Homo sapiens: one gene and its partners. The protein of the gene in region 5 purifies or fractionates together with the protein of the main gene of each other region. This does not show direct contact. Each region holds a gene or a part of one and is shown on either strand. Other genes may lie near its edges.

Region 1 (4,201 bases), about 65 Mb from region 5:
TAGGATAATAAAGTTTTACTTGTTTCCCTGTATTTTTTTCCTAAGTTAGCTTAAAAAAAAAAAAAAGTTTAAGTTCCTGCTAGAATATGAGCTCCCTGGAAGACTTTTTCTATAGTTTGTAATTGTACATCCAGTACCTACAATAAGTCTCTTCTAATAATATAAATATGCCCACATAGTAGGCATTCAGAAATACATTCAGTAATATATTTTTTAATGCATAATATCTTTTGGTAAAATAAGATATTTTACTAAATCTGTAAAAGGGGTGGACCATGAAAGAAAATGGCCTAGCATGAACCTTTTACTGCATAAATTTAATTAAATGTGGAATGTGGTAATAAAGAGGCTTGGGGGAAATTGCAAGGAGCTTGGCATAAGGGGAGAATAAAAGACTCTAAGATATTCCTGCTTGCGGAAACTTTTTAACATTAAAAAAAAATTTTTTTTAAGTAGATTATTCCTTGCGTTCTCTCCCATTGAGCTCTGAAGTTTATTCTTTCCCTAGCATTTCATCCCGGGCTTTTGGAACCAGATCTCACTTCCTGAACAGGCTACGAAAACCTCTTCTAATAGGGAAGCTTTGAATTACAATCATGGGTGTTTACTGTTTCTTTGATTTTCTAAATTTACTTTTTCAAAGGTTTCATCTTCAAAACCAGAAGAAAATAAAATTCGTCAGGAAGATTTAACAAAAATTATAAGTAGTGCTCAGAAGGTTCAGATAAAACAGGAAACTATTGAGTCCAGGCTTTCTGAATTAAAAAGGTAAAGTGTTATTTCCAAATATAATTTTAATCTGGGAATTGGGTATGTGTCTATGTGTGTTGAGTTTGGAGGTTGTCTGATGTTTTATTGTAAGTACTCAGATCACTTTGTTGAAGCCAAGATCAAAGGTCATTTTTCTGCAAGTATTGGTTCCCTTTACTTTGATTTGTGGCCACTGACTTTACTCTAATATTGTTTTAATTATGATAGTCAGAAGAAGATATAAACCTAAGCGTATCAAAACAGTTTGATGTATAAGTCTTAGCAATAAACAGTAGGTCTTTAAGATGATGTAGGAAATATGATTCTATTTAGGTTAGCTCATATGGTGCTCATAGACAATGAGGGCATACGACATAAAAACCCTGTATGTTACCCATCCTTTGTTTAATGGCTGTCTCTTAAGATTTCTTTGTGTGGACTCTTAGGAAAAAGTAGGACACAAAAAAATCGGAAAACGATGCAGGAGAGTTGCCATGCTTGATACTTATTTCGTATAGACTTGGAAAAGTGTTATTCAGAGCTTTTATCTACAGAAAGATGCTTCGTTTTATTTTACTACATTTCTTGGTTACCATTATTGTAACTTGCCATACTAATAACTTGTGTATAGAGTAGATAGTGTATTACTCTTCTTAGTAAGTAGCTGGAATTTTTCTGTATCCTAATAGGTGCCAAGGGCTTAAGAGTGGTTACTTTACATATTCTCTCTTCCATATCAGATGTGAGACGTTACTTTAGTTAATCATAACTCAAATATCTTCATTAAAAGAGGAACCTATAACTTTGATTTCTTTTTTAAATAAGCTTTAGGCTTTCTCTTCTTGTGTATTTAACAACTTGTTTACTGTATGTATCTTGTGTATACTAGCTGCTCTTTGACCCAGTTCCTTGGGACCACAGTTTCAGCCTTTAAAGAAAGTGATCCCCAAATCATTTTTTGTACCTTAGAGGGAACTTTCTTCTCCTTATCTTTTTGTTTGTTTGTTTTTGTTTTGAGACAGTCTCACTCTGTTACCCAGTCTGGAGTGCAGTGACTTGATCTTACCTCACTGCAATCTCCGCCTGCCGGTTCAAGCGATTCTTGTGCCTCAGCCTCCCTAGTAGCTGGGATTACAGGCATGTGCCAGCTAATTTTTGTATTTTTAGTAGAGATGGGGTTTCACTGTGTTGGCCAGGCTGTTCTCAAACTCCTGACCTCAAGTGATCCGCCCACATCGGCCTTTCAAAGTGCTGGAATTACAGGCACGAGCCACCGCACCCAGCCCTACTTATCTTTATTTAGTAAGCAGATAACAACATTTTTTAATTTGAATCAGAAAAATACAGTAGTTATTCAGTAAATATTAAAATCTCCTTTGGTATACCCTTATATGTAAATCTCCAGTTCCTTTTATATTAGTTTGGATTAAAGAAGATGACTTGTGGAGAATAACAAAAGATGGAAAATTAAAGCATTTAATAGGTATTCAGCATTCTCCGTGCTGCGAACATTTAACAACATAATGCAGTTTCAATTAAAAAAGGTGAACGAAGAAGAAGCTATTCATATTTGGCAAGTTATTAGTTTATTATTGGATATGCTTTTTCAGAATAACATTTTAGTGGTTTACATATGCTGTTGTTTGAGATAGATCTTAAGATAGTTTTAGAATCTGACAGACTTTAGTTTGATTTCAACACTTACCAAATTATTTGTATGATCTTGAGCAGTTCCCCTCAATTCTCTGTACCTCAGTGTCCTCATCTATAAAATAGAGATGATGACTTATTTCTTGGTGGTTTTTAGAGAAATTTTAAATAAGTAATACACATAAAATGTCTAGCATAGTGCTTAGAGTATAGTAAGTGCTGGGTATATATCACTACCCTTTATTTCCTAAGGTGATTAGGAAGGCCTGAATTCACTTGGTAACCACAGTTGAAAGATTAGCTTATTTTTTTTTAAGCAAAAAATAATGAGCCAGATTGTCAAAAGTAGTAAATTGCCAACTACTATATTGATGTAGGCATATGTCTTAAGTTTCTGTGTATCTATTGTCATGAGTAGCAGATACTACACTTAGGAAGGAATGATTCTGGTGCTGGGTGCGGTGGCTCATGCCTGTAATCGCAGCACTTTGGGAGGCCGAGGTGGGTGGATCACCTGAGGTCAGGAGTTTGAGATCAGCCTGGCCAACATGGCAAAACCCCGTTTCTACTAAAAATACAAAAAAAATTAGCTGGTTGTGGTGGCACATGCCTGTAATCCCAGCTACTTAGGAAGCTGAGGCACGAGAATTGCTTGAACCCTGGAGGTGAAGGTTGCAATGAGCCGAGATCGTACCACTGCACTTCAGCCTGGGCGACAGAGCAAAGCTACACCTTTTTTTTAAAAAAAGAATGATTCAGGAGTTGTGTCAAGGTAGTTGTCATTCCTATGTAATTGAACCAAAGTTTTCTTGGTCTCATAAATACATATAGTAAAAACAAGTGTAGTTCAGTTGTCTGGTATTCTTAATTAAAGATACTATGGTCTGGTTTTTTGATTGATTTTTTTTTTGTTTTGTTGCTTAATAAATTATAACATAGTGAGAATGAGTCCCTTTGGAAGGAGGTGTCAGAATTACGAGCAAAGCATGCACAACAGCAACAAGTTATTCGAAAGGTAAGAAGCTCTTTTCCCCAGGACCATAATTTGCATTTGTTTAATGAGTACTGTTTGTGACCCAAAAAGGTCTTTATTGAGTGTCTGTGATTGATCTTAGTTTCTTACATATTGGATGCACAGATAGAAGTAAAAAATGAAATGAAATTAAGCCAAGTGTTACACATTTTTAATAAAAAATTTCTCACTAGCTAAAGATGGTTATTCCATACTCGCAGATAATGTCTCAGTAGCTTTTAGTAAATGATCTTTTGCCTAATATAACAATTTTGAAATACTTTATTTTTATGAGCATAATGAATACACTACCAATTTCTTTTAAAATTAGAAAACATAGCCTTACTGGTTTTTTTTGTTGGTTTTTATTATAAAAGGCATAGTTAAGGTCTCAGAAGATAAATGACAAATATTTTCAAATCAGTTGACCAAATTATGAGTTCAGAAAATGATTTCTCAATGTATGCTGTTATTAGTCTGTGGAGAAAAGCAGTTAACATAGTGTTGTAAAATGAATTTTAGATTTTAGTATCTGAGCTGAAAATTTAATAGAGGAGTTGGAATCCCTCCGTTTCATTGTGTCCTTGTGATTTAATCTTTGCATATCAGCTTTCATTTGCTAATAAGAGATGAAACATAGTAATTAAGGCAGCTATTTTTTGCTCATGAGTAAACTAGACTCTGAGTTTAAGCAACAGGTTTTTTGAGGGGGAGCTTCTGATTGCTCCTGCTTAGAAGGCCCTTGAACTAAAAATAGGGTTGTGACTGACAGGATCAGGGTCTAATGGA
Region 2 (4,861 bases), on a different chromosome or scaffold from region 5:
ACCTGCAGGTAAAATAATGGGCCAAGCCACAGAATCAGACAACTTTAAAGCTAAAAGGGACCACAGATACCAATTACTCCAGATTCCACTTTTATGCTGAAACCTAGAGGCCATGAGTTAAAACTACCTGCCCAGAATTAGACAACCAACTTGTGGCAAAGCCAGAATGAAACCAATACTCTAAGCTTCTAGTTGTATCCTCTAGACTAGGTTCCCAATTTGTAGATTTCCCTGAAACATGTTAGACTACACTCATCAAAGTCTCTTTAAATTGTGAGAAGAACCTAGGTGATCCAAGACAACGAAGGTTTTGAACACACAGACAAGAAACAAGAAAAACAAAAATTCTGTATTCTCCAAATTGTTTTTCTACATTCTATTACTTTTATTTCAAAGTTTTTACTTCAAAGTTTTCAAACATACACCCTGTTCATACAATAGGCAACTTAAAACTAGCTAAGGACATAGCCAAGAGTCATTCCAATAGTTCTGAAATATTTACATAAACTAAAGACAACAAAATAGTATCCAGGATGAGCTGCCTCAGAGGAAGGAAAGTAGCAATACTAAACAATAAATAAAAACAACTTCTGGTTAATTGATAGAGAAAACAAAAAAAGTTACAATGCAGTGGTAAGTCTGCAATTGGTCACAAAAATGCAAGGCATGGTATGTATATGTGTGTGTCACACACATATACATACCATGCATTTCTGTGATGTCTGATATGAAGTCTTGACATCAATTGAACCACGCAGAAAGAAAACTTCTAAGTCGTGGTCACTCTTGAACAATAAACATATATCCTGTTCAGAAGGACGAAAGAAAAAAAACATAATGTAAACTTGCTCTCACTCTCTCTCTCTCTTACACACACACACACACACACACAAAATATACAATATATATTTCACAAATCAACCCCTAGGAATGGACTACAAAACAACATACATTTGTAGACTTTTATGTCCTTACAAATGAAGAACGATAGTTAACACTAGGTCCAGAGAACCCAGATTGTTTTGGATACTGAAATACCGAATTATCATATACATGTATTCTTAGAATAGCATGGCCCTATTTCTAACATCACACAAATAAACAGTATGCCAAAGAAGTGTGTAAGGAGAGAAAGATGATAGAATGGGAAAACGTTGTAACTACAATATACTCTAATTCATATGCACTTTCAGATTCTCACCAACCTTTGTTCTAAATGACCAGCTAAGTGGGATTTAGCAGGCAGACGGAAAATCAGGCACCAAAGTTTTTAATCTAATTTGCTGAGAACAAACTGGGTGACCTTGCATCGTCTCCCACTCCTTTGCTTTAAATCTTCCGGTACGTAGAGTAACATCAAGAAACAGCCAGCAAAATACAAAGTGGTACACAAATCCTTAAGAACTGGTTATAAGAAGAATTCCTGGATTTTTATGATTAAAAGGGTCACTAGTGATGATTTAATCCAATCCACTCACTTTACAGATGAGGAATCACAAGCCAAAAATGTGACTCGATCTGCCCCAAATCCCATAGCCATTTAGTGGTAGAACTGAGACAAGAACTGAGATCTCTGGACTCCTAGTTCTATGATCTTTGCGATGGACATTAAGTCTTCAAATCAACTGAACTACACAGAAAAAAACCTAAGTCTTGGTCACTCTTGAATAGTAAGCATATACCCTGTTCAGAAAGATGAAAGAAAAAAACATAAGGTACTTGATCACTACAGGCTTAGATGCACAAGACTGCAGGATAACATCTTAACATTGTGTTTGATCCCAGGTGCTTCAAATTTGCCATCTTATACTCAGCCACGTTACTAATGTCTTCTGCAGTCACGTGAGCTAGGCGATAAACATCTTGCCGTTTCAATATTTTGGAAAGCCACAGCTCAGTCCTGAATGCCAGGCTATAAATCCTTAAGCTATGAGTTTTCAAAACCAGCATGGTTTTAGTGCTGCCACAAGGCTCACCCTAATAGAATCTCATCATTCAGTTTTAATTAAAGAGGTGGTTACCAGGAATGCAGAAAGGGAAAGTTTTAGTGTGTTCATCACTTTTAACCTGCTGAGTGGCAACCCAGTCACTTTACAACGAGATTCAGAAACAATAGTGTAATCTGAAACAATCCACACCCGTTGGAATAAGTGGTTGCTTTTAGAGAGAGTGAGGTTCAGGCAGAGGTTATAGATTAGTCTTGCTCCCACCAAATACATAGTTTGCATTTTTTTCATTCATTAGCTTATCCTCTGCTTTTTCATAATATCTTGGTTTCCAGTCTTGCCTCATTCAACAATAAAAAGAGACGAAAATCCATTCACTTGGTTTCATGGAGTTTTTCCATCATACCTTCTTGAAGATTGATTGCCTGGCTGTTCCCTTGAAGTAATCGCCTAAGAATTACGTCTTGGATAGCCCAACTCCCGCATTAAACTTACTGCAGGTGTCTGAAGAGGTCCAAAGACCATACTGAGTGACATCCCTGCCCAAGTGATAGTCTGAAGAAACTTGTCAGAAATGCACCCCCAGAACAAAAAGGGATGTGGGAAACTGACCTAGCACGGATGAGGACTGGGAATGAGCCTGTGACTTAGGGAATGAATTTCAGCCCAAGCAAAAATAGGAAACACCAGCCTCTAAGACGGCCTGTGGTCCTTACCGTACACCCGGACCCAGCTCTGTTGCTGGCACACGGACTCCAGAAGGATCCGATCCAACATGCCACCGGCGACGGCTCCACTGACTGGGACAACCGCGTCCAGGTCCTCCGGGGGCAGCGGCGAGTCGGACTCCAGCGCCGGGAACATCTCCGGCCAGGACAGCGCCTCCGCGGCTCCTCCGGACGACGGAGAGAGCTCCATGGTGCCCCGAGGCGGGAGGGGGACGAGGCGGCGGCTTCGGGGCGGGCTGGCGCGCGGCTCCGCGCCCTGCCTGCGGTAAGGGGAGGAGGAGAGCGCGCAGCGAGGGCAGGGACCCGAGCGGCAGCCGGCGCGGACACCTCTCACCTCCTTCCCCGTCGCCCACTGCCCGAGGCTCGGGCGATGCAGCCCACCTGCAGTCGGCGGGCGGGACCCAGGCCGGGAGGAGGATCCAGCGTGGCCCCGACCAAGGGTGGGTCCGGGCTCAGGTGTGTGTGGGTCCCTCCCGGGAGAGGACGCAGAAGAACCCGGGAGGGGAGGCTCGCCCTCCCACCTCCTCGGAGCCGCCTTCTTCAGCCCCGCCGGCGTCTCTCGCGGTCAGACCAGGCTCTGGCTGGGGATGGAGCGGGGCCGGGCAGGGCTGGGCTTGGGGGCGTCGCCGCCAGGGGCCGCCCCCTCTGACCGGCTCCCGCCGCCGCCGCCTCAGAAGCTCCGAGTGCCCGTTCCCTCAGCCTGAGGAGGGGTAGGGGGCGGTGGCCCCGGGTTCTAGCCCGCCTGTCCTCGGCCCCCACTTCTGGAATGAGCCTGCCCGCCCCCTGACTCTCAGGCCACAGCTCCGGCCACAGCTCTGGCTCCTGCTCCGCGGCGGATCCCACAAACCCGGCAGCCACGGCGGTGGCGGTGGCGGTGGCGGTGGCGGTGGCGGCGGCGGCGGCGGCGGCAGCGGCAGGCGGCATCCCAGGGTGATAGGCTGAAGCAATCGAGGGCCGAGAGCCCGGCCGCGTGTGCACTCGAGTAACGAAGCCGGGGAGGGACTGCGCCGCAGGCAGGAAAAGTCGGACACCGAATTATTCATCCGGCCTGTCCCGCCTACTTTCCAAGTACCCTCCCAGGGATAGCCGGGTATTGAGCGGTCCGGGTCTCTGCTGCTCAAAGTAAAGACCGTTTGAGAAGGCGGGGAGGTAAAAGGGTGCGGGAAATTTAAACAGAAAAGAAAGGAGCTTCCCTTCCTTCTCACACCTTTCCTATTTATTTGTTTCTTTCTTTCTTTATGGGCCAACGTTTCTTTCTTATTGGACAAAGAGATCGAAGAAGCTGCTTTATCTTACAGTCACCCAAGGGGGAGCGCCTTCTTCCTTCCCAGAGTGGAGTGGCAGTGGGTCCGGGATTCTGGGATATGCACAGGGTCTGCGCCCTGCGCCCTGTCCGCGCTGAAGCTGAACTTGTCATTGGTTTGCAACAGCATGGTGAAGAAGTGTGGTGTGGATGGACGGACGGGCCTCTCAGGCACATGAAATACTCAAAGCCCAGTATTAACCAAACATGTTTCTCTGTTTTGTCTTTGATCTTTGTGCAGTGTGTTGGCTTTTTTCCTTTAATGATGTCACTTGTATTTTATTTTTGGTTTATTTGTAGACTGTCTCCCTCCTTGGCCATGGCTTTACTTTTATGTCCACCCAAGGAGAGTTTCACCAGTTTAGGTTTAAGAAATTACTGACAAGTTAACAATAATAATTTCAAAATTGAACAGTAATAACTTAAACCGTGCCTTGGACATAGTAGATCTCCAACAGTTTTTCTTGAATGTGGCTACCTAATGTGGAACAAGATTTTTCATAATTACATGTTGCTATTTTTAATACCTTTTGGGAGGTTCTTTAGTCCCCCCCGCCCTTTCTCCCTACGTTGCACAAAGAGACTGGTCTACAAGGGGTCCTGTTAGTTTTCTGGTTTTGTGGGGTCCTGGAATATTGTTTGGGCTTATTGAGAGTTAACAAGGATGTATTTTGTGAGTTTCTCCAAAGTCTTATTTAGAGTAATAGTATTTCAAAGCAAGAAGTGTTTTAGAGAGAACATCATTCTGCCTCTTGTTTAACAGGTGAGGAAACTGAGGAAAAACCAGCTTACCTGGCTAATCAACCACAAGTACAGATAGTTCCACAATGACTCAATGGATATTACTTCAACTTTGTTCCCTCAAGAAACTTTTGTGATTAAGC
Region 3 (4,201 bases), on a different chromosome or scaffold from region 5:
TGTGTGCTGAGGCACCCTGGGGCATTGCTGGATATTTATTTATTCCCTTTGCCCCTCTGTGTGTGTGTGTATTTAACAGATGGGGGTCTCACTATGTTGCCTTGAACTCCTGGGCTCAAGCAACTCCCCTATCCAGGCCTTGAACTCCTAGGCTCAAGTGATCTTCCCACCCCAGCCTACTGAGTAGCGGATTCGGCCTGTCCATGTGGACTACAGTTGCCTGCCACATCATCCAGCTAACTGCTGGGTATTTTAAATTTGAAACACAGCGCCATCTGCTGACCACCATACAAACAACTACTTTCAAGTTGTCTTGCAATTACTTCATAAACTAAATTATTAGGTATTTCTTTTGGCTTGGGGACGGATGAAAAAATTACTGAGCTATTAAGGGCACTGTGAACTGAGAAAATGTGGGAACCTCTGAGCTAAAATCTAAATGGTGAAATGATGGGCTTAGAAGGAAGAAACCAAATTTTAGTACCATCATTTGCCTCTTTAGGAAAGGCAAATCAAAATCAATTCCCGGATAGTTCTACAAATGAAATCCGAGATGCTCTCCCCAGGACCCTGGCCTCTCCTTGAGGATGTGTCTGGTTTCTTGGGGCTAAAAGGTGCTGCCTGGTCATTTGCACAGAATAGGGCAGTTGTGTTCTTCAGAGAAAGATGGGAAGAGCAGGGGCTGCCAGGAATGGGCATGTGGCAAGATTGCACAAGGCTGCTGGACTTCAGAGAAATGAGAAAAGATGGAAAATTTACAGAGAATCCCACAAAACTGAATTGGCTACCACGATGAAATGTATATGTGAAAAGTTCATCTCCAATTCTGGCTCCTAGAAGCATCTTCACCCTGGCCTCTGTTCCTTTTCCTGTTGTTCCTTCTTTTGCTACTGATTTTCTAGGTTAGGTAATTTGAGGATTTTCACTGCTGAAATTATTTTTTATGAGGCTCTGAGACCATCAGCACCAAGCTGTTCTAGAACCTAATAAATGGCTAAGTGATCAAGGGCCCTGGATAATGAGTAACCACAATTTATCTGCATCACAGGAAAAATTCCACTGAGGCACCTTTAAATAAGCATTTATCATAAAACAAAATATGCCAGGCTAGAGAACCTATGGAAATAGGCAGTCTCATTTAAATTTATCAAGATTGAGTAATCCTACCTAGGACTTTAAAATTTTTACCCCAAATCTTGGGCATGTGACTGAATGACATTTACTCAGCAGCCAGAGAGAAGAAAACGTAGTTTTGGTCATTTTTATCTTACTTTGAAGTAGTAATTAACTCCTTTGTCTTTCCCCATGTCCTAAACAAAATCCACCTAACCTGCCAAACTCACCTAAAGATATCAGTTAGAAGAAAGGGTTGGTGATGTGTGTTGTCACAGCAACCTTGATTTCAATGATTACAGAGGGGCTGGGTACAATCTGTATCTTCTGAAGTTTGGGAGTAGCACGGGGCACATTTTAACTAAATGAAATTCCAATTCAACACAACACTATAAATTCCTGGAGTTCCACATCATGGGATTTTATCATTATTAGAACTACATGCCCCTTTTATCAAACACATGATACACAATACATCAATGAAAAGCTCAAACACAAAAAACATTTGGCAACTCAAGCAATGAGCACACATCAATCCAACTGGCAGTAAATTTACCTAATTTATCTCTTAATTTGCCTACATCATCTGTAGTTAGAGGATGTAGGGCTGACATCTTATATACTACAATTTCAGGCAGACAGCAAGAGTTAGAAGCTTTAATTCTTGAAATAGTTCTTTCATTTTTAATGTAACTTAATTTTTTTTGAGACAAGGTCTTGCTCTATTGCCCAGGCTGGAGTGTGGTGGTGAGAGCTCAGCTCACCTGTGACCTCCACCTCCTAGGCTCAAGAGAGCCTCCCGAGTAGGTGGGACTACAGGCATGCACCAACATGCCTGGCTAAATTTTTGTATTTTTTTATAGAGACGGGGTCTTGCCGTGTTGCCCACGCTGGTCTGGAACTCCTGGACTCAAGCAGTCCGCCCACCTTGGCCTCCAAAATTGCTGGGATTACAGACATGAGCCATTGCACCTGGCAAGTTGGTCCTTTCAAATAGGACAGACTAGAGCTGATGAAAAAATTTCCAGCAACTGACATCGCTAAAAAAGAGCATCCCAGATTGATAACATGCTCAGAATTTCACAATTCTGGGGTCAACAATGCTTACAGCTTATCCAGACTGTTCTACATGGACACGTCTGCAGGCTTCAGTAATGGCCTTCTGGAAGACTCATTATCTCCATGCCCCTTCCTGGTTGGGTTTTATACCATCTCCCCATTTGGCCAGACCTGTACAGAACTTGCTGTCCCTTAAGCCGGCTCAGGGATGGGAAGAAATTTGTATACCCCAACTTTTCTTTTTCCCTAACCTTCTTCTAACCCCTTCACAGCCACTTTTCATATCTCATTCAGAAGCCACCGCATGGATCCAAGTAAAAGGAAAGGCACAGACAAGAAGCTTTTTACTGCCTATACCTTTTCCCTATAGTTACTAAAGCATGTGGATGGGGGTGAGGACCAAATGAAGTCCAGGTTTCTGAAGATAAACCCCTATTTCTTCTGGATTCTAACCACAGACCTTTTGGTTCACACTCTGTAAGTCAAGGACATATGTTTTTTATTTCATCAAGTTAAGTCAAAGAATGATAGATAAGACTGAACAGAAGAATTAGAAGAGGCTTTCCTGTAGAGAAGCTTATAATATACACATTACTATTCTTCAGGGCCAATTTACTCTTAGTTAAGAAAAATAAGGCTGACCAGGTGCAGTGGCTCACACCTGTAATCCCAGGACTTTGGGAGTACCAGGCGGGTGGATCATTTGAGGCGGGTGGATCATTTGAGGTCAGGAGTCCGAGACCAGCCTGGCCAACACAGCAAAACCCCGTCTCTACTAAAAATACAAAAATTAGCTGGGAATGGTGGTGCACACCTGTAATCTCAGCTACTTGTGAGGCTAAGGCAGGAGAATCGTTTGAACCCGGGAGGCAAAGGTTGCGGTGAGCTGAGCTCATGCTGTAGTACTCCAGCCTGGGCAACAGACCAAGACTCTGTCTCAAAAAAAAAAAAAAAAAAAAGAGGGCGGGCATGCTGGCTCACGCCTGTAATCCCAATGCTTTGGGAAGCCGAAGTGGGCAGATCACCTGAAGTCAGGAGTTTGAGACCAGCCTCTACTAAAAATACAAAAATTAGCTGGGCATGGTGGTACATGCCTATCATCCCAAGTACTTGGGAAGCTGAGGCAGGAGAATGGCTTGAACCTGGGAGGCAGAGGTTGCAGTGAGCCAAGATTGCACCATTGCACTCCAGCCTGGGTGACAGAGCCAGACTCCGTCGCAAAAAAAAAAAAAAAAGCCAGGTGTGGTGTCTCACGCCTGTAATCCCAGCACTTTGGGAGGCCGAGGTGGGTGGATCACCTGAGGTCAGGAGTTTGAGACCAGCATAGCTAACATGGCAAAATTCCGTCTCTACTAAAATAATAATAATAATAATAATAATTACAAAAATTAGCTGGGTGTGGTGGTGCAAGCCTATAATGCCAGCTACTTGGGAAGCTGAGGCAGGAGAATCACTTGAATCCAGGGAGCAGAGGTTGCAGTGAGCTGAGGTCGCACCACTGCACTCCAGCCTGGGTGAGAGAGCAAGACTGTCTCAAAAAAATAAATAATAAAATAAAAATAAGGCAGATTTTTTTTTCAATCATACCATCCTTATACAAAAAGTAATGAATGTAATGCCATGAAAACGTGGTATGTGAACTTTTGGACATAGGCTAAAGAGGTAAAGTTTTTATACTGCCTATAAGAACAAACTCCTACTTAGAAGCTATAATTTTAACACCAAATCTGAAGAGAGATATGGGACAGACTGAGAACACAGTCTAGGTATTTTTCTCCATAGATATGAGGGACAGGGGATGGAAAAGTTAAAATAAAAACCTATGACACTGTTCTGAACAGGACATGACCTGCAGCCAAAGCACTGCATGTTTATAAATTTTAGGACTCTGCTCCAACTTTAGGAGTGTCAATATTAAAGTGGTTATGGTGAAGAAAAAAAAGTGTCACACCAAGTTTAAAATTAAAACCAGGTAAAATTTCCTCCAAAGCCTCTAATTTTGAATATTCAAGATAAAGTCTTCATGATC
Region 4 (4,201 bases), on a different chromosome or scaffold from region 5:
CCTACCTGTCTGTACTTTTTTTGTTTTTGCTTTTTTTTTTTGTTGTTTGAGACCAAGTCTCACTCTGTCACTTAGGCTGGAGTGCAGCGGCGTGATCTTGGCTCACTGCAACCTTTGCCTCCCAGGCTCAAGCAATTCTTGTGCTTCAGCCTTCTTTCTGAGTAGCTGGGATTACAGATGTGCACCACCACACCCAGGTAATTTTTTTTTTTTTTTTAAGACAGAGTCTTGCTCTGTTGCTCAGGCAGGAGTGCAGTGGCACTATCTTGGCTCACTGCGCCTGCACCTCCCAGGTTCAAGCAATTCTCCTGCCTCAGGCTGCCGAGTAGCTGGGACTACAGGCGCTCACCACCATGCCTGGCTAATTTTTGTATTTTTAGTAGAGAAAGGGGTTTGCCATGTTGGCCGGGCTGGTCTTGAACACCTCAGGTGATCTGCGTGCCTCGGCCCTCCAAAGTGCTGGGATTACAGGCGTGAGCCACCTCACCTGGCCTCAGATGAATTTAGAAACCACTATTTTTTTTTGAGATGGAGTCTTGCTCTGTTGCCCCGGCTGGAGTGCTGTGGTGTGATCTCAGCTCACTGCAAACTCTCCCGGGTTCAAGCAGTTCTCCTGCCTCACCTGGAACTACAGGCGCCACCACGTCTGACTGGGTTTTGTATTTTTAGTAGAGACGGGGTTTCACCACGTTGGCCATGCTGTTCTCAAACTCCTGACCCCAGGTGATCCACCTGCCATGGCCTCCCAAAGTGCTGGGATTATACGCATGAGCTACCCACGCCTAATCTTTATGTGACGTGTTTTTTTAAAAGTCCTAAACTTAGAGGTCATTGAATTTATTGGAGAAGGTTATTTTTGATTAATGGCGATTAGGCTAATTTTTTTCATGGTTTTAATAGAGATTTTTCGTTTTTTTAAACTTGATTTAGATGTATTGCTTTTGGAAATTGCAGAAATTAACAAACCGAGTTTTCCTAAGAAATATTTTTTCTTAATTTCTTAATTGAAAAGTTTTCTATGGCTTCCTTAATAGACAGTAGGACCTAGTTAATAGTTTAAAGAAGTTTCATAATTGTTATTAGAAATGTTAATTATGGGCCGGGTGTGGTGGCTCACACCTGTAATCCCAGTACTTTGGGAGGCCAAGGTGGTCAGATCACAAGGTCAGGAGTTTGAGACCATCCTGGCTAGCATGGTGAAACCCCATCTCTACTAAAACAATACAAAAATCAGCTGGGCGTGGTGACAGGTGCCTGTAGTCTCAGCTACTTAGCAGGCTGAGGCAGGAGAATGGCGTGAACGCGGGAGGCGGAGCTTGCAGTGAGCCGAGATCCCTCTACTGCACTCTACTGCACTCTGCCTGGGTGACAGAGTGAGACTCCGTCTCAAAAAAAAAAAAAAATAGCCAGGCATTGTGGGACACACCTGTAGTCCCAGGTACTCGGGAGGCTGATGCAGGAGAATCGCTGGAACCAGGGAGGTGGAGGTTGCAGTGAGCTGAGATTGTGCTGCTGCACTCCAGCCTGGGCAACAGAGTGAGACTCAAACTCAAAAAAAAAAAAAAGTTAATTTTGTAGTTAGAGAATATCTTCCTGCTCTACGCAAATTCCCTTCCAGCCTGAAATTATTTGTTTTTTTATTTTTTATTTAAAAAAAAATTTATTATTTTTGTGACAGGGTCTTGCTCCGTTACGTAGGCTGGAGGGCATTGGTGCGTTCACGTCTCACTAGCATCGACTGCCTGGGCTCAAGTGATTTTCCTGCCTCAGCCACTTCCAGTAGCTGGGACTACAGGTGCACACTGCCACACCCTACTGAGTTTTTATATTTCGTAGAGACAAGATTTTGCTGTGTTACTCAGCGTGGTCTTGAACTCCTGAGCTGAAGTGATCCCCCTGCCTCAGCCTGCCAAAGTGTTAGGATTACAGGCATGAGCTACTGTACCCAGCTGTGATTTCTTTTAAAGTGCTACTTTACAGCACTGTCACTTTTATTTTATCATTTTTAACTTTAAAGTTTTTTGTTTATTTTTATTTATTTTATTTTTTGAGATGAAGTTTCGCCCTTGTTGCCCAGGCTAGAGTGCAATGGAGTGGTCTCGGCTCACTGCAACCTCTGCCTTCCAGGTTCAAGTGATTCTCCTGCCTCAGCCTCCCAAGTAACTGGGATTACAGGCGCCCGCCACCACACCTGGCTAGTTTTTGTATTTTTTGTAGAGACAGGATTTCACCATGTTGTCCAGACTGGTCTTGAATTCCTGACCTCAGGTGATCCACCCGCCTCAGCCTCCCAAAGTGCTGGGATTACAGGCGTGAGCCACTGCGCCTGGCTTAAAATTTTTATTTTTTATATATTTTGTTTTTTTCTGAGACAGGGCCTTGCCCTGTCTCTTGTCCAAGTTGGAGTGCAGTGACATGACATGGCTCACAGCATCCTTGATCTCTTGCGCTCAAGTGATCCTGCCATTTCAGCCTCCTGCATAGCTGGGAGTACAGGCATGTGCCACCCCACTCAGCTAATTTTTTTTATCTTTTTGTAGAGATGGTGTCTTACTGTGTTGCCCAGGCTGGTCTCAAGCTCTTGGGCTCAAGTGATCCTTCTGCACATTTCCAAGGTTGTTTCACTCCTGTGTCTTTGCTGTCTAGAAGCTTTTCAGTGTGATGTAATCCCACTTGTCTGTTTCGGCTTTTGTTCCTTGTGCTTTTGGGGGTCATATCCAAACAAAGATTGCTGAGGGGCCAAATTTTAAATTGTGTATAATTTTAATGACTTCAGATTTAAATAGCTGCATTTGGCTTATGGAGTCTTTTGAGCAGCATGGTTTTAAAAAGGTTTTTGCCAAGTGGGGTTCTAATGGACACCTATGCTTGTAGAGCTCTGATGTGAGTGATCTGCTGTAGAAATTACTTCTTTTGATTTAGTATATTATTTTAAAATGCAGGTGATGCACTGGTTTCTTGGTGAGGGAAGCTGGTTTTTCCTGGCTGAGCTTCTGTAGGGTGGAGGGCTGGAGTCCAGGCTCTCGCTGGGCAGGGAAGGCAGCTTGAGTGTGCCTTCCAGTCCTCCTGAGGGCCCACATTTTTCTGGGATCACCTGTTTTCTGTAATGTGCATTGAACACACGGGCCAGGAGAAGAGGGAAGTAGAGGAGCTTTGTCCTCTGTGCTCATCCTCACAGTGCTGGGCGGGCCAGAAGGATTCAGGGCCAACCTTAGGGAGATGAAGGCCAGTTAAAATGTTTTATTGCCACAAATGGTGTCTTTTAAGAAATGAATCCATGTATTTTACACTTAAATGATATTAGGCTACTCCGGGCACACTGCCTATGGGGTAGCCCTGCTCTGCAAGGAGTAGTAAAAAAAAAAAAAAAAAAAAAGTTAAAGATACAACTTAGTTTCTCTGTGACTAGGGAAATCGTCCAAGTATGTATCAAATAATGCTAATTGGTACCTAGTTTTATATCTTGATTAGGCAACTTTTTGCTTAAAATTGTTTTGGAATGCATTAGTATTTCTACAGCTTCAGGCTGCTTTATCATCTAATACACAGTTGGATATTTAATATATAGTTTTATCAGTTTTTTTTAAACACTGTTTTTGAGAGGTCTGAGGAAAAAAAAGATAGTGTTACCAAAAATACTTCTATAGGGAAATACTGATAGAAATGTATAGGTAGCCTTGAAATTCTGAGGTTAATAAAAAAATTTGAATGCAGGTAACCTTTCATGGAGTTTGTCAAATTTTAAATTGTGTCTTACATCAGTGATGACTGAAGCAGTAAGGAGTGAGCTTGCAGCAAACAGTGGGGATTGTTGCAGCATCAGCACTTCAGCCAGCTCTGCAGGTTTCCTTGGAGACACGTGGATTTCTCTTTCTAGACCTTCAGCTATTTTCTTTTTTTTCTTGTTTTCTTGAGATGGAGTCTTGCTCTGTCGCCCAGGCTGCAGTGCAGTGGTGCGATCTCGGCGCACTGCAAGCTCCACCTCTCGGGTTCACACCGTTCTCCTGCCTCAGCCTGCCAAGTAGCTGAGACTACAGGCGCCCGCCACCACGCCCGGCTAATTTTTTCTATTTTTAGTAGAGACGGGGTTTCACCGTGTTAGCTAGGATGGTCTTGATCTCCTGACCTCGTGATTCGCCTGCCTCGGCCTCCCAAAGTGCTGGGATTACAGGCATGAGCCACCGCGCCCGGCCAGCTATTT
Region 5 (4,201 bases):
CACCTTTTGCTGCTCACTGAGAACCCAGCTTTGAACTTACAAGATTACACTAACCATTTTTAAAGTGCACAAAAATATTATTATTAGTCTTAACTAAAATTACATATTTTATAATGCCCTGCAACTCTAAACCATCCTTTTGTTTACACATTTTTGTATGGTATTTTAAGATTATCAATCACTTCAACATTTCTATAACCTTGTTTGTATAGCACTTTCTCAAGAGCTGTCAGTCCCACATACAGAATCATTTCTTTTACAAAATGATTTAATATGTAATCATGTGTCAGGACATAAATTTTGTCACTTGGGACAGTAGCTTTCCAGCTAAGATAATTGCGTGAACTCTGTTAAAACTGATTATCACTCATCAATGGCTTTATTTTTAACCTATAAATAACCCCTTTCAATATACCTGGTTTTTACAGCATTGCAAAATCTGTAAAAATAACTTTTATTGGAAAATGTCATGAAGTCATTTTTCATTATTTGTACTAAACAATGTTTTATGTACTCCTTTTGTGTTTTATCTTTTGTTTTTCCATCTGTACTCCCCTCATCCTCCTAATGTTGAGAAAATCAAATTTCCTGGGTGTGTCCTTGTTAAGTGATCAAAAGTAAATGTTCTCTTTGCCATTTTAGATGGAAAAATAAAAAAAATTAAAAAGTAAATTTTTGCTTTTCATTATATTGAAATGATCTGGCATTATCTATTTCACAGTAATGTAAAATGCTTATTTTTATGTCACCAGTTGTCACCACTCCCATTGCTGATAGTGACATAGGTTTTGGGGGCAAAATTCAGTTCCTAACAAACAGTGGATACTGCTAATGAGTCATCTTTTCTACTCTCTTCAATTTTCTACTCTCTACTCTCCTCTTTAATTTTTGCACAAAATAATACTTTGCAACAAATAGTCTTTTGTCTTTATTGGCAGAAAAATCACTTGTTATATGTGTTCTAGTTAGTTCTTTTTCATGTTAGCTGTGTGGCTAAAAGCGTGTTACCTTTCTATATTTAAAAAAAGTAATCTCTGAGGATAGTTACAGTTCCTGTAATATAATTTTATGTACCTAGTTTTATCTTTTTTTAAATAAGAACTGAAGAGAGAGCTTTGTTACATATTTGAATTTTTAATTTGCACTGCTGTATTTTAAACCTAACCATAATTAGTCATTTAAAATAATTAAGTAGGCCTGAAAGTCAGCCATGTTAATTTCTCAATTTAATCAATTCTTAAAGCCTTCAAAAATTGACATTTTTTTTCCAAGACCCTTCATTCTCTTAAATAACTTTAATTTTATGAAACCATGTATACTAAAGAAAAACTTTTCCAAGATTCCAGGTGATTGTGCATTTGTGCTCTAATCTACTTTTTTAACATTACGGCTAATCTTTTGCGTAGACATATCGCTGTGGAATAACTGCCATATTTCAGAGTTCCTCAGGTTTCCTTTTCCTTTTCCAGTCTCTGTCTATGAATTAAATAGTATATAGAATGACCCATATAAGGCAATATAGTTAAATAAAACCAGGTTAAATGATTTCCTTTGTATCTGCCCAAAGTTGATAGCACACGTTACTTTTTCAAAATAAAGCTAAAACTACCAAAAAGAGGATGAAAACTTTTTCCTCATTATGGAGTGAAGTTCTAGGTGGTTGCTTTAGAAGTTGGCAGTGCAGTGCTCAGAAGGAACTCTCAATAAATAACATGTACTCCTTGGACCTGTGAGTTTTAGGAAACTGGACCTTTTCTGAAGACCTTAGAATAGGGAGTTGGCCTTAGGACCTAATGTCCCAACTTAGTGTTGGACCCTTTTAATATAAGATATTGTTAATTATTAGCATACTTTTCAAAACCTTTGAAATAGTTACTGCTAACCTGATAAAATGTTCCCATTAATCTATCATTAGTCTGTTTCTCTGAAAACAAAATGCATTGATGAGGTGAAAGCTTGTTCCACATGGCACCTACCTAATGAACAGGACTTACTCAGTTTTTAACTGTTAAGAATGTCACATGTACTATTGTCACTCCTTAGGTTTTCAGCTATAAAACATGTAAGTCTCTCATCATACAGATGAATTCATTTGCTAACAAAATATTTAAAACCCGCAGTAGACTCTGAAATATCCAGTCATCAAACTCCTGGCTAACTGGATGATTTGGCTATAATAATCTTTATTATTATTATTTTCATCTGTCTCTCGAAATATCTACAGTAGGATGTTAGTAAATGGTCTTTTAAAAGCAAAAAATTGGGGATAAAAGGAAAACTGAATTCCTTCTATATTTTTATTACTAATAAATAATGCTTTTGTAAATTTGAATGGAAAACCACTTGTATGTATTGCTATTTGGTTGCAGTTACACTCTGGAGCTTAATTTAAAACACTACTCTAAAAATTTCATGAAGGATGAATTCCAATAATCAGAAAATAAATGCATTTCAAAGCTAAAATTTTGTGTGATATGTATGATTGTATCAACAGTGTGGATCTAAATAGTAAAATATATAATGCAACTTCTTTAAAGATCAAAGCAACCTAAAATTATTTCATATTTCAGATACTCTGCCAATATTTAATACTCTCATTTTATTGAAAGTAGTGCTAACAAGGAATGGCAGGAGGGCTACCCTAAAATTATGTATTATATGCTAGGAATGGTAGAGAATTGAGATACAGCAAAACATACTCTATATCCACTTATAGTCTATATAAAAGACAATAGTTTAAATGAGGGTAAAAATGTGACTCAGGAGATTCATCATCATTTGAAAATAAATTATACTCCCATTCTTATAAATAAAAATACATGTTAAGAACCAACCCATTGGCCAAGCGTGGTGGCTCATGCCTGTAATCCCTGTACTTTGGGAGGCCAAGGCAGGCAGATCACAAGGTCAGGAGTTTGAGACCAGCCTGGCCAATATGGTGAAACCCCATGTCTACTAAAAATACAAAAATTTAGCCGGGCGTGGTGGTGGGCGCCTGTAGTCCCAACTACTAGGGAGGCTGAGGCAGGAGAATCGCTTGAACCCGGGAGGTGGAGGTTGCAGTGAGCTGAGATCACACCACTGCACTCCAGCCTGGGCAACAGAGCAAGACTCCATCTCAGAAAAGAAAAAATGAAACCTCATGAAGTAAATGAAACTATAGAAACTGCCTCCATAGCATATATTCAACACCAAACGTCTACAAAATGTTTGTTCTCTTCCCTTCACAGTCTCTTTTCCCTAACTCATATACTCCATAGTGTTCCTTGCTACAGTGGATATGTCTTCTACTTGTCAGACAGCCTGGGTGACAGAGCAAGACTCCAAAACAAAAAACAAAAAAACAAAAAACCACACTGGAGATTCCCTGCCCTTTAGATGTGGCTCTAGGTACAGAATGCTGGAGACACTGTAAACCAGGGACCCCAAGCAGCTTGGAAATGTGGATCATAGCTCTTCAAGTCTGTGATCAGAAATCAATGACCTCCATTAAAAACTCCATTGCAAAAAAATGGGAAAAATAATGCTAAGAATACCAAGGTCAAGGAGGCAGAGCCAGAATAATTTGTGTAGAAAAAGTCCTGGACTGATGTGGAAGCCATGGGAAGCAGGGAGCAGTAGTATTTCCCAGAGTGGAAGGGATTTACGGATGCTGACAATACTTGAGAACCTGAAGAAAACATGACTATCCATTTCTTAATTTTCAAAAAGCTGGTCAAGAAAAAAATGATGCACACAAAAAATCATCTCACAGTCTGATGACAGCAAATCAGTCTGCTAACAAACCAAGTGGCTCTGCCATAGATAGAATTAATGTTTCCCATGAAATGCAAAGATTTAAATAAGGCAGAGTTGGAGCTGGCAAAGGAAGTAACATGAATGTCTTCAGATTGTAACTGCTTTTTATAAAGAGACTAACTTGGCATTTTTGTAGAGAAAATGAAGTTTGATATTGCTTGCATTGAGAGATATATACATACATAAAGTCAGTTTGGATCTTGATTTGGTTTTTCAGTGTGAAGAATACCTACATTCAAATAAAAATTGATGTGTTCATTTCAAAATAGTATCCAGGGAAGTTGTTGTGGTTTTTGTATATCAATAGGACTAGTTACTTTGAACAAATAAGTGTTCTCTAGTTGCTTCACACTTTATCAGATAAAAGAAGAATCAACACACTGGTCAACCTTTTTAGTAAACA
Region 6 (4,201 bases), on a different chromosome or scaffold from region 5:
CTATTGAAGAACATTGTGAAGCCATTATGCCTCATTAATTGCTGCTTACTTTTTTTAGACTTCAAATCTCAACCTGAGCCATCCCCAGTTCTTAGCCAGTTGAGCCAGCGACAACAGCACCAGAGCCAGGCAGTCACTGTTCCTCCTCCTGGTTTGGAGTCCTTTCCTTCCCAGGCAAAACTTCGAGAATCAACACCTGGAGACAGTCCCTCCACTGTGAACAAGCTTTTGCAGCTTCCCAGCACGACCATTGAAAATATCTCTGTGTCTGTCCACCAGCCACAGCCCAAACACATCAAACTTGCTAAGCGGCGGATACCCCCAGCTTCTAAGGTGGGCATTTCATCATGAAGTCACCGTCCTAAAGCTGGAATTATTTTTACATTCAGCTCTAGTGGGATACTAAGTTTTGGAAACTGGGGTACAGTGTTTTTCAAGCACATAGCTTATTGATTGCATAATAAGGATATGGCCATTTCTGAGTGACCAGACTAGTATTAGAGGGAATGGGTTTGTGCTGAGAGCCACAGATCCTTATTTCAAGTACAGATTTGAAGATCTGGCTCAGAGAACTGTTGTTCTTGAGGGTTTTGCTGTATCCCATAGTTGGAGGATGCATGGTTCCTTGACCAGGTGATACTTTCATCATTGGTGAGTCCCCAAAAATAGAGTAGTCAGCTCAGTGTTCACTTCCCACCCACCATCACAACTCCCCCGCATTGCTCTTAGATGCAGGTGGTGATATTAATGCCAACCATTCCTGTTTAACTTTTAATTTCTCCTTTTTTTTTTTAAATGAGACAGGGTCTCGCCGTGTTGTCCAGGCTGGTCTTGAACTCCTGGGTGCAAATGATCCTCCTGTCTTGGCCTCCCAAAGTCCTGGGATTACAGGCATGAGCCACCATGCCCAGCCAACTTTTAATTTTTCTTAGCTTGTTTTTTTTCTTTCTCTTTTTAGAAAAGTCTTAGCCTATTTTCTCCTTGTTTCTCACTCCTTCTTCTTGCCAGTATTGCCTGGGAACCTAAATGCTTGTTTGGCTCTGTTATAGGCCTTTGTGACCTGGAATCTGTGACCTCTGTTCCTGACACGACAGCTTTGCTTTTTCAGATCCCAGCTTCTGCAGTGGAAATGCCTGGTTCAGCAGATGTCACAGGATTAAATGTGCAGTTTGGGGCTCTGGAATTTGGGTCAGAACCTTCTCTCTCTGAATTTGGATCAGCTCCAAGCAGTGAAAATAGTAATCAGATTCCCATCAGCTTGTATTCGAAGTCTTTAAGGTACTGAATTTAGTCCTTTGTTATGAAGCAAAATAGACCCTAAGAGAGATCAACTGGTGGAAAAGAATACATCCTGTGGTAATAGCTATCCTCAGTGTTTATCCAGACCTTCCATCATCTCCATAAGAAACCCCATACCTGTAGCAGACAGTCTCAGTTTCTTCATTGCCCTGCCCCTTAGCAACCAATAATCTGTCTCTGGATTTGCCTACCTGGACATTTCATATAACTGGAATCTTGGAATATGTGGCCTTTTATGTCTGATCTTTCACTTAGTGTAAGTTTTCGAGGTACACCCATGTTTAATGTATCATTTTTATTGCCAAATATTTCATTGTGTTGATAATACCACATTTTATTCATTCATTAGTTGGTGGACATTTGGGTTGTTTGCTCTTTTTGACTATAGTGAATGATGCTGCTATGGACATTTGGTTTCAAGTTTTGCATGCTTTCAGTTCTTTGGGATGTATATCCCAGGAGTAGAGTTGCTGAGTCATATGGTAACTTAACCATTCAGGAAACTCCCATACTGTTTCCACTGTGGCTGTAGCATTTGACATTCCTACCAGTAGTCTATGAGGGATCTAATTTCTCCACATGTTTGCAGCAGTCATTTTCCTTCAGTGGAATATTTTATAAATACAAAATCTCAGATTTTAGTTTTCTTTTCTTTTCTTTTTTTTTTTTTTGAGATAGGGTCTTGCTCTGTTGTCCAGGCTGGAGTGCAGCAGCATGCTTGGCTCGCTGCAACCTCTGCCTCCCAGGCTCAAATGATCCTCCTGCCTCAGACTCCTGAGTATCTGGGATTACAGGCGTGCACCACCATGCCCAGCTAATTTTTAAATATGTTTTGTAGAGACAGGGTTTCGTCATGTTGCCCAGACTGGCCTCAAACTCTGGAGCTCAATGAATCTGCCTGCATCAGCCTCCCAAAGTGCTGGGATTACAGGCATGAGCCACCGGCCTGGCTGACTTTGTTGTTGTTGTTGTTTTAGTTTTTTCACATTCCAGAGGCAAAACCTGATATTTGTTTAAGTTTCCTTTTTAAAGATGGTCTCAAACACCTGGATTCCTTAAAGAATCTTCTTATTTTTTTTCTTTTTTTCTAGACAGAGTCTTGCTCTGTCGCCAGGCTGGAGTGCAGTGGCGCGATCTTGGTTCACTGCAACCTCTGCCTCCCGAGTTCAAGTGATTCTCCTTTCTCAGCCTCCAGAGTGGCTGGGATTACAGGTGCCCACTGCCACGCCCTGCTAATTTTTGTATTTTTAGTAGAGACGGGGTTTCACCATGTTGGCAAGGATGGTCTCGATCTCCTGACCTCCGGATCCGCCCACCTCTGCCTCTCAAAGTGCTGGGATTACAGGCGTGAGCCACCGCACGCAGCCTAAGTATTCTTAAAGATGTCCCCCTATCTCTCAGTTAAATTAGGTGGGTCTCATTTGGGATAATAAATTGATGCAGTAGTTGCATCTCGTGAAGCTGTTTATGTTTTTTTTTTTTTATGAAGCTATTTAAAGTAACAAAATTATGTTGAATATTTTTGACTCTTTTCAGTGAGCCTTTGAATACATCTTTATCAATGACCAGTGCAGTACAGAACTCCACATATACAACTTCCGTCATTACCTCCTGCAGTCTGACAAGCTCATCACTGAATTCTGCTAGTCCAGTAGCAATGTCTTCCTCTTATGACCAGAGTTCTGTGCATAACAGGATCCCATACCAAAGCCCTGTGAGTTCATCAGAGTCAGCTCCAGGAACCATCATGGTAAGTGGTATTTTAGTTTTTTTCTCAGAAGATGTCCGTCTTATTTGGAAATTAATGTTTGGTTAAATTATGCTTCTTGGATATGATTTTATTTTACAAATTGACTAACCTTTTGAGTAGAATCCTTATAGTTCATTGAGTTTGTTTATAGTGGGCATCTCTAGCACCCATGCTCTTGAGTGTGTGGATAGATCTGCAGGTTCATACACTTTGTGGAGAAAACCAAGCATGCGTGTAGTATGAGCACTTTGGCTGTAGTACTGGGTACTTCTACATTGTCTGAAATATCTCTGAATATTTCATGTACTGCTTTCTCTCTGATTGCCCCATTTGCTTTGAATGTATTTGCTTCTTCATCACTGTTAGGTATTTTTGTGTTAAAATTATGTATTTTCTACCTAGTTTTTGTTAATAATACTGGACTATAGATAAAGGAACCAGATCTATTTTTGATATAGTTTTAAAGTTTTACCCTTCTAGATTCTTGCTAACTGCATATCTGATGGTCATTGCCAGTTGTATTGCTTTCTGTTAAGTTGAGATGTACCAATATCTCCTGAGAATCTTAGAAAGAAACTTAAAAAAGAACAAGTATACACATTTCATGTCACACTAGTAATACTTGAACATCATTCTGTCCCAGGAAATTAAAATAATATGGATGACACTACAGGCATACCTTGGAGATACTGCAGGTTGTTTTATACCACTGCAATAAAGAAAGTTGCGCTAATTTTTTGGTTTCCTAGTGCATATAAAAGTTACAATGTGGATATCTTAATTAAAGATACTTTATTGATAAGAAATGCTAAAAATTAATATGTGAGCATTCAGTGTGAGCAATTCTGTGGATTGTTTGTTTTTTGGGGGAGTACAGGTTCTTGCTTTGTCACCCAGGTTAGAGTCCAGTGGCGCGATCACAGCACACTGCAGCCTTGACCTCCCGGGCTCAGTGAGTCCTCCCACCCTAGCCTCCCAAAGAGCTGGGACTACAGACATGCATTGCCATGTCTGGCTGACTTTTGTATTTTGTTTAGAGACGGGGTATCACCATGTTGCCCAGTCTGATCTTGAACTGCTGGGTTCACGCAATCCACCTATCTTGGCCTTCTTCCAAAGTGCTGGGATTATAGGGTGAGCCACTACACTGGG
Region 7 (3,756 bases), on a different chromosome or scaffold from region 5:
GAGCTGAGATCTCGCCACCGCACTCCAGCCTGGGCAACAGAGCAAGACTCCGTCTCAAAAAAATAAAATAAAATAAATGCTTCTCCCACAATGGGCAGTTACAAGACCGGTTTTCCAAGCATCCTTAAGTCTGGAGCCCCTGTGAGGAGCCTGGGAGCCCTTTTATTAATACATACATGTATTTGACAAATACACGCCCAGTGTAAACCCACGTGTTAGACTTGGCTGAAAAGAGAATACAGCTGAGTCCAAGACCTTCAGGAACTTATAGGCCAGAAGAGAGATGCCACAGCTACGGGGAGTTGTGAAGCACTGTGAGGTCCCAGAGAAGGAGCATCCCCTTCTAGCTGGGGGACCAGAGAGAAGTGGGTGGCAGAGGAGATGGGACGAGAGCATGGCACAGTGTGCACAGTGTATGCCCATCTGTGCAGGCAGGGAGCAGGGCTGCCGGGTACCTGCAGGAATGTGGGGGACAGGGCAGGAAGGTCTGCAGCATGATAAGGGTCTGGCCAGAGAGCCCTCAAATGTCAAGCTAAGGAGTTTTGACTACTGTGAGGGCTTTTGCAGCTGCTGGGTTTTGAACAGGGTGCAGACTTAACCAGAGCTCAAGTCAGCAGAGCTGAATTAGGATGGTAATAGGAACAGTGTGGAGACTAGACGGAAGGGGAGGAGACTGGAAGCAAGAAGCCCAGTTAGGACACAGTCATAGCCATAGAGAGGGGTGGCCAGGCCTGGAGCCATAGGCAAGCAAGCAGTGGGCTCAGACTTGAGTGCCAGCAGCAGGGCCTCCCGCAGAGCCTGGGAAAGCCCATCCGGGGCTCTCTGGGGGCTTGGCTGCAGCAGCACCCATAGGGCCCCAAGGCAGCCTGTTCTGCCCCTGGTAATCTACTTGAGAAGAGCTGAGCTGGGTGCGGTGGCTCATGCCTCCCAGAACTTTGGGAGGTCCAAGTGGGTGGATCACAAGGTCAGGAGTCTGATACCAGCCTGGCCAGCATGATGAAACACTGTCTCTACTAAAAATACAAAAATTAGCTGGGTATGGTGGCACATGCCTGTAGTCCCAGCTACTCGGGAGGCTGAGGCAGGAGAATTGCATGAACCCGGGAAGTGGAGGTTGCAGTGAGCTGAGATCATGTCACTGCACTCCAGTCTGGGCGACAGAGCGAGACTCTGTCTCGAAAAGAGCTGAGAATTCACTAGGCACAGCGCCTGGCACAGTGCACTCCAATGCCAGCAGGCCTCAGGCCAGCCACAGCACGCCCCAGACCATGCTGCGAGGGCTTCAGTGCACAGAGTTCTGAGAAAGCATTGGGGCTACAGTGAGCACAGGGAGGGCCCCAGGGGACCTCCCCAGGCAGCCCTTGGCTCCCAGGGTAGAATCTCTGTGGGCACCAAGGCCGTAGGTTGACTTTTTTCTTCTTACCTTCTGCCCCACTGTTAGAAGGCTTTAAAACCTGAAGATGGGGTTGACCCAGTACTCTGAGAGCCCTTCAGGTTTTCTCTCCTTCTGCCCTGGGAGCTGGAGCCGGGTGTCCCAGGAGGAAGTGGGGAAGGGCAGCCACCTTGAGGGATGGAGGGCAGTGCTTTATCAGGGGTTGTCCAGAAAAGCAAGAGAGGACATAATGCTGAGGAAGATCGTCTAAGACTGGGGCTGGGCGCAGTGACTCACCCATGTAATCCCAGCATTTTGGGAGGCCAAGGCAGGAGGATTGCTTGAGCCCAGGAGTTCAAGACCAGCCTGGGCAACACGGCGAAACCGTCTCTGCAAAAAGTACAAAAAATTAGCCAGGAGTGGTGCTTGCCTGTACTCCCTACTACTCAGGAGGCTGAGGTGGGTGGATCACTTGCACCCAAGAGGCTAAGCTACAGTGAGCCATGTTTGTACCATTGCACTCCAGTTTAGGTGACATAGCGAGACCTGGTCTCAAAAAAAAAAAAAAAAAAAAAAAAAAAAAAAAAAAACTATAGAAAGAACTAGAAGCATGAGGCTGCCAAGTACCAACAAGAAGGGTGAGAGATCTCTTGGGGCCTTAGATGCCACCAAGCTGTGAAACTGGCTGGCCTGGAAATCCAACTCTAATGAGGCAGGCAGAGAGAAGGGGATGGATGGGGTTAGGGGAGCAAAGAAAGTCTCATAAAAATAGCTGCTGGCAAGTACCCCAAAAGGAAAGAAAACTCACCATCAAAACCCCCAAAACTGCAAAATTCCAAACAGTAGCTGATGGAGACAAATCAGCAGTTCAGTGGAGCCATCCCTCGCAGCCTCAGAGCCTTGATCATAGTTGCCCACGGTCTTGGCCTGGTTCTCACCCTACCAAGAGCTGAGCAGAAAGCTGGAAGGGAGGTCCCACAGCAATAGAGCTCCACTGCTGCAGACCCCAAGTTAATCACAACAGGCACCGTTGACCAAGTGCCTGGGCTGTGCGTTAGCTCCTTTTCTCTCTCCAGCACCGTGCAAGGTAGATGTTAGGGATTTTTTTCAAGGTCACCCAGCAAGCAAGTGACAGCTGAGATTTGAGCCGAAGTCTTTTCTGTTCCCACACAAGGGAATGCTCAGGCATTTCTGCAGAGGGAGTGGCGGACAGATCCTTCTCTCCCTCCCTAGACCTGGGTCCTGTGCTGGTCAGTTGACTCTTTTCCGGGAAATATGGCATCAGGCATTGAGCCCCAGGAGAACAATAACTGGGGAATAGCTTGTGAAGACTGGGGGGTAAAGGGAAAGAAGAGAAGGAAACAGCCCTTCCAAGGAACAGTTAAAACTCTCAGCTTCTGACCAGGCACGGTGGCTCACGCCTGTAATCCCAACACTTTGGGAGGCCTAGGTGGGCGGATCGCCTGAAGTCAGGAGGTCGAGAGCAGCCTGGCCAACATGGTGGAACCCCATCTCTACTAAAAATACAAAAAATTAGCCAGGTGTGGTGGGAGCCTGTAATCCCAGCTACTCAGGAGGCTGAGGCAGGAGAATCGCTTGAACCTGGGAGGTGGAGGTTGCAGTGAGCCAAGATTGTGCCACTGCACTTCAGCCTGAGTGACAAGAGCAAAACTCCATCTCAAAAAACAAAGGCTGGGCACGGTGGCTCATGCCTATAATCCCAGCCTTTTGGGAGGCTGAGGCAGGCAGATTACCTGAGGTCAGGAGTTCGAGACTGGCCTGGCTAACATGGTGAAACCCCGTCTCTACTAAAAATACAAAAATTAGCTGGGTGTGGTGGCGGGCACCTGTAATCCCAGCTACTCGGAGGCTGAGGCGGAAGAATGGCTTGAACCCAGGAAGTGGAGGTTGCAGTGAGCTGAGATCGCATCATTGCACTCCAGCCTGGGCGACTAGAACAAAACTCCATTTCAAAAAAATAAATAAATATGGCCAGGCGTGGTGGCTCACGCCTGTAATCCTAGCACTTTGGGAGGCCGAGGAGGGTGGATCACCTGAGGTCAGGAGCTCGAAACCAGCCTGGCCAACATGGGGAAACACCATCTCTACTAAAAATACAAAAATGAGCCAGGTATGATGGTGCATGCCTGTAATCCCAGCTACTTGGGAGGCTGAGGCAGGATAATTGCTTGAACCCGGGAGGCGGAGGTTGCAGTGAGCCAAGATCACACCACTGCACTCCAGCTTGGGTGACAGAGCAAGACTCTGTCTCAAAAATAAATAAAATAGGCCAGGCGCAGTGGCTCACACCTGTAATCCCAACACTTTGGGAGGCTGAGGTGGGCAGATCACGAGATCAGGAGATCAAGAACATCCTGGTTAAC

Evidence for each region.
Region 1: the proteins of BAG2 (region 5) and HSF2 purify together in Homo sapiens (affinity purification with mass spectrometry; 4 studies listed by BioGRID and IntAct, with this or other methods). This does not show direct contact.
Region 2: the proteins of BAG2 (region 5) and RASAL2 purify together in Homo sapiens (affinity purification with mass spectrometry; 3 studies listed by BioGRID and IntAct, with this or other methods). This does not show direct contact.
Region 3: the proteins of BAG2 (region 5) and DNAJC13 purify together in Homo sapiens (affinity purification with mass spectrometry; 3 studies listed by BioGRID and IntAct, with this or other methods). This does not show direct contact.
Region 4: the proteins of BAG2 (region 5) and DNAJB6 purify together in Homo sapiens (affinity purification with mass spectrometry; 4 studies listed by BioGRID and IntAct, with this or other methods). This does not show direct contact.
Region 6: the proteins of BAG2 (region 5) and UBAP2 purify together in Homo sapiens (affinity purification with mass spectrometry; 3 studies listed by BioGRID and IntAct, with this or other methods). This does not show direct contact.
Region 7: the proteins of BAG2 (region 5) and AMBRA1 purify together in Homo sapiens (affinity purification with mass spectrometry; 3 studies listed by BioGRID, with this or other methods). This does not show direct contact.

What each region holds. Positions count from the first base shown.
Region 1 is NC_000006.12:122,412,882-122,417,082, forward strand, and holds part of HSF2 (heat shock factor protein 2), read left to right. Parts: intron 1-643; coding exon 644-768; intron 769-3,339; coding exon 3,340-3,415; intron 3,416-4,201. UniProt on the Homo sapiens protein: DNA-binding protein that specifically binds heat shock promoter elements (HSE) and activates transcription. In higher eukaryotes, HSF is unable to bind to the HSE unless the cells are heat shocked.
Region 2 is NC_000001.11:178,092,496-178,097,356, reverse strand, and holds the start of RASAL2 (ras GTPase-activating protein nGAP), read right to left. Parts: upstream 3,254-4,861; 5' UTR 2,865-3,253; coding exon 2,663-2,864; intron 1-2,662. UniProt on the Homo sapiens protein: Inhibitory regulator of the Ras-cyclic AMP pathway.
Region 3 is NC_000003.12:132,532,264-132,536,464, reverse strand, and holds part of DNAJC13 (dnaJ homolog subfamily C member 13), read right to left. Parts: intron 1-4,201.
Region 4 is NC_000007.14:157,342,962-157,347,162, forward strand, and holds part of DNAJB6 (dnaJ homolog subfamily B member 6), read left to right. Parts: intron 1-4,201. UniProt on the Homo sapiens protein: Has a stimulatory effect on the ATPase activity of HSP70 in a dose-dependent and time-dependent manner and hence acts as a co-chaperone of HSP70. Plays an indispensable role in the organization of KRT8/KRT18 filaments.
Region 5 is NC_000006.12:57,185,254-57,189,454, reverse strand, and holds part of BAG2 (BAG family molecular chaperone regulator 2), read right to left. Parts: 3' UTR 1-4,201. UniProt on the Homo sapiens protein: Co-chaperone for HSP70 and HSC70 chaperone proteins. Acts as a nucleotide-exchange factor (NEF) promoting the release of ADP from the HSP70 and HSC70 proteins thereby triggering client/substrate protein release.
Region 6 is NC_000009.12:33,940,497-33,944,697, reverse strand, and holds part of UBAP2 (ubiquitin-associated protein 2), read left to right. Parts: intron 1-58; coding exon 59-333; intron 334-1,108; coding exon 1,109-1,278; intron 1,279-2,835; coding exon 2,836-3,049; intron 3,050-4,201. UniProt on the Homo sapiens protein: Recruits the ubiquitination machinery to RNA polymerase II for polyubiquitination, removal and degradation, when the transcription-coupled nucleotide excision repair (TC-NER) machinery fails to resolve DNA damage. May promote the degradation of ANXA2.
Region 7 is NC_000011.10:46,398,680-46,402,435, reverse strand, and holds part of AMBRA1 (activating molecule in BECN1-regulated autophagy protein 1), read left to right. Parts: intron 1-3,756. UniProt on the Homo sapiens protein: Substrate-recognition component of a DCX (DDB1-CUL4-X-box) E3 ubiquitin-protein ligase complex involved in cell cycle control and autophagy.